Linked DNA regions of Homo sapiens. The protein of the gene in region 2 interacts with the protein of the main gene of each other region in a pairwise test. Each region holds a gene or a part of one and is shown on either strand. Other genes may lie near its edges.

The links. Proteins that work in one complex are often made in the same cells at the same time.
Region 1: the proteins of ACKR2 (region 2) and SACM1L interact in a two-hybrid assay, tested with the Homo sapiens proteins (one large-scale study listed by BioGRID and IntAct).

Annotation. Positions count from the first base shown.
Region 1 is NC_000003.12:45,695,008-45,700,246, forward strand, and holds part of SACM1L (phosphatidylinositol-3-phosphatase SAC1), read left to right. Parts: intron 1-5,239.
Region 2 is NC_000003.12:42,808,070-42,812,244, reverse strand, and holds the start of ACKR2 (atypical chemokine receptor 2), read right to left. Parts: upstream 2,801-4,175; 5' UTR 2,713-2,800; intron 1-2,712.

The DNA of each region.
Region 1 (5,239 bases), 2.9 Mb from region 2:
TTGGGTTGTGCCCCTGGGGAGTCTGTGATGAACTTGAGCTATAGGAGAGGCAACCAGGGAGGGCTCAGTGAGGAGATACCCAAAGGGAGGATGAATGGGGGAGGTAGGAGCACCTTCTGCCTATGAGTGTAGTATGTGCAGGGGATCCTTCTTTACTAAGTTGTTTTCTTTTTGCTCACCAAACCTAGTAAAGTGTTGTGCCTCTGTCTTTTCAACCAGAGATGTATTAAATTTGATCATTAAGACCTTGATTTAATTCTTTTTTTTTTTTGAGATGGGGTCTCACTCTGTTGCCCAGGCTGGAGTGCAGTGGCGCAGTCTCGGCTCACCACAACCACCACCTCCCAGGTTCAAGTGATTCTTGTGCCTCAGCCTCCCTTGTAGCTGGGACTACAGGCATGCACCACCAGGCCCGGCTAATTTTTGTATTGTTAGTAGAGACAGAGTTTCACCATGTTGGCCAGGCTGGTCTTGATCTCCTGACCTCAAGTGATCCACCTGCCTCGGCCTCCCAAAGTGTTGGGATTACAGGCATGAGCCACTGCACCCAGCCAAATTCTTTACGTAAGATTTTTGAGGGAATATGTTCTTGCTACAGTTTTATGACATATCACTGTGGCTCCTATGCAAAATAGTGGTTTCATTATTTTTAAAAATTGTGGTAAAATAAAACATTAAATTTACCATCTCAACCATTTTTAAGTATACAGTTCAGGGGCAATAAGCACATTCATGTTGTACAACCGTTATCACCATCCATCACCAGAACCGTTTTCATCTTGCAAAAATAAACTCTGTACCCATTAAACAACTCCCCATTTCTGTATCCTCCCAGCCCCTGGCAACCACCGTTCTACTTTCTGTCTCTATAAATTTGACTTCTCTAGATGCCTCATGAAGTGGCAGTATTTGTCCTTTTATGACTGGTTTATTTCACTTAGCATAATGTCCTTAAGGTTCATCCATTGTGTAGCATGTGTCAGAATTTCCTTTTTTTTTTTTTTTTTTGAGATGGAGTCTCGCTCTGTTGCCTATGCTGGAGTACAGTGGTGCGATCTCGGCCCACTGCAACCTCTGCCTCCTGGGTTCAAGCAATTCTCCTGCCTTAGCCTCCTAAGTAGCTGGGATTTCAGGTGCCTGCCACCACGCCCAGCTACTGTTTTGTATTTTTAGTAGAGACAAGGTTTCACTGCATTTGCCAGGATGGTCTCCATCTCCTGACCTCGTGATCCGCCTGCCTCGTCCTCCCTGAGTGTTGGGATTCCAGGCCTGAGCCACTGTGCCTGGCCCAGAATTTCCTTTCTAAGGCTGAATAATATTCCATTATATGTATGTACCACATTTCGTTTGTTCATTTGTTAATAGACACATAGGTGGCTTCCACCTTTTTGGCTATTGTGAGTAATGCCAGTATGAATGTGAGTATACAAATACCTTTTTGAAACCCTACTTTCAGTTATTTTGAGTATATACCCGGAAGTGGAATTGTTGGGTCATATGGGAATTCTATTTTTAATTTTTAATGGGCCACCATACTGTTTTCCCATAGTGGCTGCACCGTTTTACATTCCCACCCACAAAGCACCAGGATTCCAGTGTCTCCGCATCCTAGCCAACACTCGTTATTTTCTATCCTGGGTTTGTTTTTTTTTTCCTTCTAGATAATAGCCATTTTAATGGGTATGAGGTTGGTAAGTAGTAATGTTTTTGTAGTGGGCCAGTTTTACTCATTGATTTGACAGGATTTTAAAGAGATCAGTTGTCTGAAATAAGACGTGAATGTTACATGAGAGATAAATGTTTTCAGACACTAGAAAATCGCAATGCCAACACTGAAAGAAAATAAAAATATTTGATGTTAATATTATAATTAAAGATATTGCTTTTCTTAAAATTTAACAAGACTAATTTTTTAAAAAACACTCTTAAGAGCTGTTGAATCCCAGGTGACTATAAGATTAAATGCATTTGTATTAAGTGTAATACCAGAACTGCCTTTGTTGCATTTAGCTTTTAGTCCCAGTTCCACTTCTGGGATACTCAAAATAATTAAAAGTAAGGTCTCAAAGAGGGATTTGTATACCCCTGTTCATAGCAGCATTATTCACAACAGTCAAAAAGGAGGAAGCAACCTAAGTGTTGATTCTTTCTTTTTTTTTTATTTCAACATTTTTTGTAGAGATGAGATCTCGCTGTGTTGACCAGGCTGGTCTCAAACTCCTGGCCTCAAGATCCTCCTGCTTTGTTTTTCTTTTCTTTTCCTTTTTTTTTTTTTTTTTTTTTTTTTAAGACAGGCTCTTGCTCTGTTGCCCAGGCTGGAGTGTAGTGGTGCGATCTTGGCTCAGAGCAGCCTCTGCCTCCCAGGTTGAAGTGATCCTCCGACCTCAGCCTCCTGAATAGCTGAGGCCACAGGTGCATACCACCACACCTGGCTAATTTTTGCATTTTTTGTAGAAACGGGGTTTTGCCATGTTGCCCAGGCTGGTCTCAAACTCCTGGGCTCAAGCAGTCCTCCTGCCTCAGCCTCCCAAAGTGCTAGGATTACAGGCATGAGCACTGTATCCAACCACTTTTTCTTTTTTATGCCATGCTTGGACAGTAATCCTTAAAAGCAAAATGACGAACTGAATGAAGGTAGTCAAAATAGGAGCAATTATTATACAAGTATTATGCTATTTTGATATATCTTCCATAGTATGTGTCTTATTAATGGGAACCAGAACTCTGGGTAGGTATGGGATCCCCTTGTCTTGACAGATATTTGGTAGGATTCTTGTTCAGTTAGAGTTAATAGTGAATTGGAGGCTAATCACCTCACCAGATAGTTTATATAGGACCAGAACCCTTTTTAGTATACAGTATTACTTTGAACCTTAGAGATCTGTTATCAACAGTATAGATAATGACCAAATAATCTTCTTGGATCGAATCTTGTCTTCCGAAATCCATTTCATAAAATAAGTAATATGATAGCTTGTTTGGTAAAGATTTAAACACAAAAATAGCAATAAAACAATACACACCAGGAAAAATTATACCACTGAATGTTTACTTAATTGTTTTTGACGGTTTAAATGCTAGAGAGTTAAAGTTAATTTCACTGGCTTTTGAAATGAAGCCCAGGAAGCATAAAACATAGAATAAAATTTATTACATAAAACAATTATGCTTCAGATCAGTATTAAGACCAATACAAAAGTGGTGGGAAATGAGAGGAAGAGAACAGTAAGGGCATATATGTAGGTGCCGTGAGTTAGGATGATACCTGCTGTTATGGTTAACAGAATTGTGAGTCATTACTTCTAATGAGCATCCCTAGAAATGTTGATTCCCTGGCAGTCACTGTTCACATTTTCATTGCTCCAATTCTTAAGCCTAGAGATACCACTTTCAGTGACATTATCAGAATAGCCTGATGGCAGCATCAGCAATTTAGATTCCAACAGCATCTCTCAGAGAGAGAAGATCAAGCAAAGGCCTCAGGACTTTTGAGCGAGACATCTCTACCTTGATCCATAATTACTCTTATTTGTATACTTTGTTATAATACTTTTTTTTTTGAGACAAAGTCTCGCTCTTGTGCCCCAGGCTGGAGTGCGATGGCGCAATCTCTGCTCACTGCAACCTCCGCCTCCCAGGTTCAAGCGATTCTCCTGCCTCAGCCTCCTGAGTAGCTGGGATTACAGGCGCCTGCCACCATGCCTGGCTAATTTTTGTATTTTTAGTAGAGATAGGGTTTCACCATGTTGGCCAGGCTGGTCTTGACTGAACTCCTAACTTCACGGAGTCTTGCTCTGTCACCAGCCTAGAGTGCAGTGGCGTGATCTCAGCTCACTGCAACCTCCACCTCCTGGGTTCAAGCAAGCGATTCCCCTGTCTCAGCCTCCCGAGTAGCTGGGACTACAGGCACGTGCCACCGCACCCAGCTAATTTTTTTGTTTGTATTTTAGTAGAGACGGGTTTCACCATGTTGGCCAGGATGGTCTCGATCTCCTGACCTTGTGATCCACCCGCCTCGGCCTCCCAAAGTGCTGGGATTTTGCATGAGCCTCTGCGCCTGGCCTGTAATACAGTTTTTAAATCTTATTTTTATTTCAATCTTATGTATACGGTTTAAAAGTAAGTAGTATACAAAGCTTATAATAACAGAGGCATCTACTTTTTTAAGCAACTTCTGGTATTTTACTCCATATCTAGCGCACCAGCATGGCACATGTATACATATGTAACTAACCTGCACAATGTGCACATGTACCCTAAAACTTAAAGTATAATTAAAATAAATAAATAAATAAAAAAATAATAGTAGCAGTAATGGTAAAAATAAAAAAATAAAAAAATGCTCATATTAGGCTGGGCTCTGGTTTATGTAGCTGTGGTTCAAATGAAGCCTCATGGTGTATCATAATTACATTTCTTTATAAAAATGTTTTGTTTTTATAAATTTATATAAATTTTATAAAATTATAAATTAAATGTTTTTAATTTCCTAGAATTAAAAAGTGCCTTGGTTCTTGTTATTTGCTTGACGTTTTTTTGAGACTGAGTCTCACTCTGTCGCCCAGGCTGGAATGCAATGGCATGATCTTGGCTCACTGCCACCTCCATCTCCTGGGTTCAGGCAATTCTCCTGCCTTAGCCTTAGCGGGGATTACAGGCATGCGCCACCACACCTGGCTAATTTTTGTATTTTTAGTAGAGACAGGGTTTCACTGTGTCGGCCAGGCTGGACTCAAACTTCTCACCTCAAACGATCTGCCCGCTTCCACCTCCTAAAGTGCTGGGATTACAGGTGTGAGCCACCGCGCCCAGCCGAGAAAAACTTTTAATTGCTTATAATGGAGATAGTTTTTTTTCTGTGTGTGCGTTTGACTTTTGTGCTCTTATAAACAGCTGATTTTATAATAAATACTTTATTGCTGACTGAAATGTACCTATTAAGTTGTACCTCCAAAGTTGTATGTGGAAACAAGTGTGACTTTTCAGTTCATTGATTTTTGTCCAAATAATTTTCATTTTAAAGGTCTTACAGGTGAGGAGAGTTTAAATGCATTTATGTAAATACAGGTGGTCAGAGTGTAGGAAGGGTGAGCTGTCGAGGGCAAGCAATATGCATTTCTCTGTTGGCTGTTTATCTAGATGCAAGCCTTGTGTTTTTGTGCCTAATATAAAAAAGTGGAGGAATTCGATTTCTGAGCTTGGTGAATAATAATCTTTTTATGTTAAAAATAGCATTAGT
Region 2 (4,175 bases):
ATACTCCTAGCCAAACAAGGGCCGTTATGCACTATACAACCCTGAGGGAAAGAAAACTGAAGGGGGCCAGCCCCTCCACACCTCTGGGTATTCCTCGTCAGGTGGAACGAGAGACTGAGAAAAGGAATAAGACACAGAGACAAAGTATAGAGAAAGAACAGTGGTCCCAGGGGACCGGCGCTCAGCATATGGAGGACCTGCACAGGCCCCGGTCTCTGAGTTCCTTCAGCATTTATTGATTACTATTTTCACTATCTCGGCTAGGGGAATGCGGCAGGAGAACAGGGTGATAATGGGGAGAAGGTCAGCAGGAAAACATGTGAGCAAAGGAATCTGTGTCACAAATAAGTTTAAGGGAAGGTACTGTGCCCGGATGTGCACGTAGGCCAGATTTTTGCTTCTCTCCACCCAAACATCTCAGTGTAGCAAAGAGTAACAGAGCAGCATTGCTGCCAGCATATCTCGCCTCCAGCCACAGGGCGGTTTTCTCCTACCTCAGAATAGGAGGAATTTACGATCGGGTTTTACACCGAGACATTCCATTCCCAGGGACATGCAGGAGATGGAGGCCTTCCTCTTATCTCAACCGCAAGAGACCTTCCTCTTTTACTAATCCTCCTCAGCACAGACCCTTTACGGGTGACAGGCTGGGGAGGACGGCTGGGTCTTTCCCTTCCCACAAGGCCATATCTCAGGCTGTGTCAGTTGGGGGAAACCTTGGACAATACCCAGGCTTTCTTGGGCAGAGGTCCCTGCGGCTTTCCGCAGTTCGTTATGCCCCTGGTTAATCGAGAATGGAGAATGGCGATGACTTTTACCAAGCATACAGCCTGTAAACATATTGTTAACAAGGCACACCCTGCACAGCCCTAGATCCCTTAAACCTTGATTCCATACAGCACATGTTTCTGTGAGCACAGGGTTGGGGCTAAAGTTATAGATTAACAGCATCTCAAGGCAAAACAATTTTTCTTAGTACAGATCAAAATGGAGTTTCTTATGTCTTCCTTTTCTACATAGACACAGTAACAGTCTGATCTTTCTTTTCCCTACAGAAAATGTATGTGCCTTGTTTCAAAACAATGAGGAAATGAGGGCCTGCCACTGTGGCTCACACCTGTAATCCAGGCACTTTGGGAGGCTGAGGTGGGCAGATCACTTCAGGTCAGGAGTTCAAGACCAGCCTGGCCAACATGGTGAAACCCCATCTCTACTAAATATACAAAAGTTAGCCGGGTGTGGTGGCAGATGCCTGTAATCCCGGCTACTCACATGAGAATCGCTTGAGCCTGGGAAGTGGAGGCTGCAGTGAGCCAAGGTTGCACCACTGCATTCCAGCCTGGGCAACAGAGCGAGACTCTATCTCAAAAAAGGAATGAGGAAATGAAGTCGGTGTTAGGAATCACCCTTACAATTTTAAGGAAATTGAACACTCGAACAAAGGATTTTTAATGAAGCAATTTTACTTTTGCGCAGAGGGGTGTCTCTTCGGCCAGTTGCCATGAGAGCGCACTTGAACAAAGGGGCACGAGGGCCTTTATTTTTGACGCAAGTCTTGCCTTTGTATTCTTTTTTTATTGGTAGTGGTCGGGTCGTACAATTTAAACTAATTTTGGTTGGCTAAACATTCGATTTTTTTTAGATAGGGTGAGCATGTAAAAGAAAAAGTGGAGGGAAAGGGGAAAGGGTGTTTGTAATGAGCTAGAAAGTTAGTCTTTTTTTTAATAAGGAAAGGAATGTAAGTTGGTATTGATAAAACGTGGTATTGTGGCGTGCCTGGGCATTTAACAAAGGCAAAGAGGAAAAAAGGCGAAAAAGGAGAAAAATTGGGGGGGGGTACTATGAATTAAAGAATAAAAGATTGATCAGATTATTTGAAGAGAAATCTTATCATATCCCACATCAGTTTATCAATACACCCAGTCTTTTTAAACAATTTCAACAAAAAGTTAATTTGTTTGAAATGGTTAGTTGACTCCTAACTCATCATTCCAATCACATTACCAACAGATTGAAAGATATTCTGCAACTTAATCGCATTACCAACAGACTGAAAGATATTCTGCAATTAATTCCAATAAAATGTTATTTTTTAAACAATGAATCACTTTAGAATTCAGGAAATATCTATGTCAATACTGTTTTCTAATTTCCTATTATTTATTCTTTCCTGCTGTTGGGGCTCAGAAAATGATACCCCAAAGTGAAGGCCTCAGAAGCAGCCTCAGAAGCAAAGTTTCTAACCAACCTGTCTTACCCTCCTGTCTATCTGTCATACCCTCATTCTCTCCTGAAGCAAGTCATAGAAAATAGAATTCCTCTTCCCCAAGGCTGATTACAGAAACCAGAACCTCTAAGCTTCCCCAACTTTTTTTTTTTTTTTGAGACGGAGTCTAGCTTTGTTGCCCAGGCTGGAGTACAGTGGCGCGATCTCGGGTCACTGCAACCTCTGCCTCCCAGGTTCACACAATTCTCCTGCCTTAGCCTCCTGAGTAGCTGAGATTACAGGTGCACGCCACCACGCCTGGCTAATTTTTGTATTTTTAGTAGAGATGGGGTATCACCATGTTGGTCAGGCTGGTCTCAAACTCCTGAGCTCGTGATCCACCCGCCTTGGCCTCCCAAAGTGCTAGGATTACAGGCGTGAGCCACTGTGCCCAACCGCTTCCCCTACTTTTTGTCTAAGAATTGGCCATAAAGAAATTCTCTCACCTGCCGTGTTCAATAGCAGCTCATAAGACCTCCATTCCAGAAAGGATCCCGTACTGTATCCTGAAAGGAGAAATGCTACAATCGAAAGAAAGTTCAAGAATCTGAACAGACAGGTCTTGCTAGGTTTTCTATTACCATTAGCTCATATCCTTTGTTGTCCAATCACATTTCTACACGACTGTCCCTGTTTCATCAAACCTAAGCATATAATGAGACAGAGTCACCTGTATCTTTGGGTCTTCACTCTGAAGGCTCCTGCATCATGTAAAACTTTGATCAATAGGAGGCTGAGGAAGGCAGATCATGAGGTCAGGAGATCAAGACCATCCTGGCCAACGTGGTGAAACCCCATCTCTACTAAAATACAACAAATTAGCCAGGTGTGGTGGCACACACCTGTAGTCCCAGGTACTTGAGAGGCTGAGGCAGGAGAATTGCTTGAACCCGGAAGGCGGAGGTTGTAGTGAGACAAGATCACGCTACTCCACTCCAGCCTGGCGACAGAGCAAGACTCTGTCTCAAAAACAAACAAACAAAACAAACCTTGATCAAATACAGTACATTTATAATGTTTTTCTCTTGTTTTTGTTTTGTTTTTATCTTTTCTTTTTTGAGACAGGGTCTCACTCTATGGCCTAGGCTGAGTGCAGTGGCACAATCTTGGCTCACTGCAGCCTTGACCTCCCAGGCTCAAGTGATCTGCTCACCTCAGCCTCCTGAGTAGCTGGGACTACAGAGGCACACCATCACACCCAGCAAATTTTTGTATTTTCTGTAGAGACGGGGTTTTGCCATGTTGTCCAGGCTAGTAATTTTCTCTTGTTAACCTGTCTTTTGTTATAGGAGTGTTAGCTGTAACGCTTATGATGGGAAAGAAAGGGATCATCCCCTTTCCACCCCTACACTGCCTCTGTTTATGTTTTCTCCCTTAAACTGACAGGGCTGGTACACTTTTGTCGAAAGATGGGACTTTTTTCTCCTAAATTCAACCGTCATTCAAACTGGGTCAGACTAATGACAATTCTACCAAGTAGTGTATACCAGTAGCCTCAATAAAGAGATTTTGGGGGACAAATGTGCATCTTCCACACAGTTGTAGCCATAGAGTGCATATCTAACTTCCTTAAATTATCTATGTGGATCTGTCATCCTATAATTTGTCTAAATCCTTATTTTTTAATATTATGAATAGAGTCCAGCTTATATATAAAAATGTATTTCCTTTCTATGTCTTAAAAATTACTTGCTGTTGAGCGATACTATATTCCTAAAATATAGCGGAATCAAAATTCCTAGTTTACAGTCCTCTACCTCTATTACTTACTAGCTATTTGACCTTTATACCAATCAATCATCAGAGATGATTGAACCAGAGCAACTCCATCTTGAATAGGGGCTAGGTAAGATAAGGCTGAGACCTACTGGGCTACATTCCCAGACAGTTAGGCATTCTAAGTCACAGG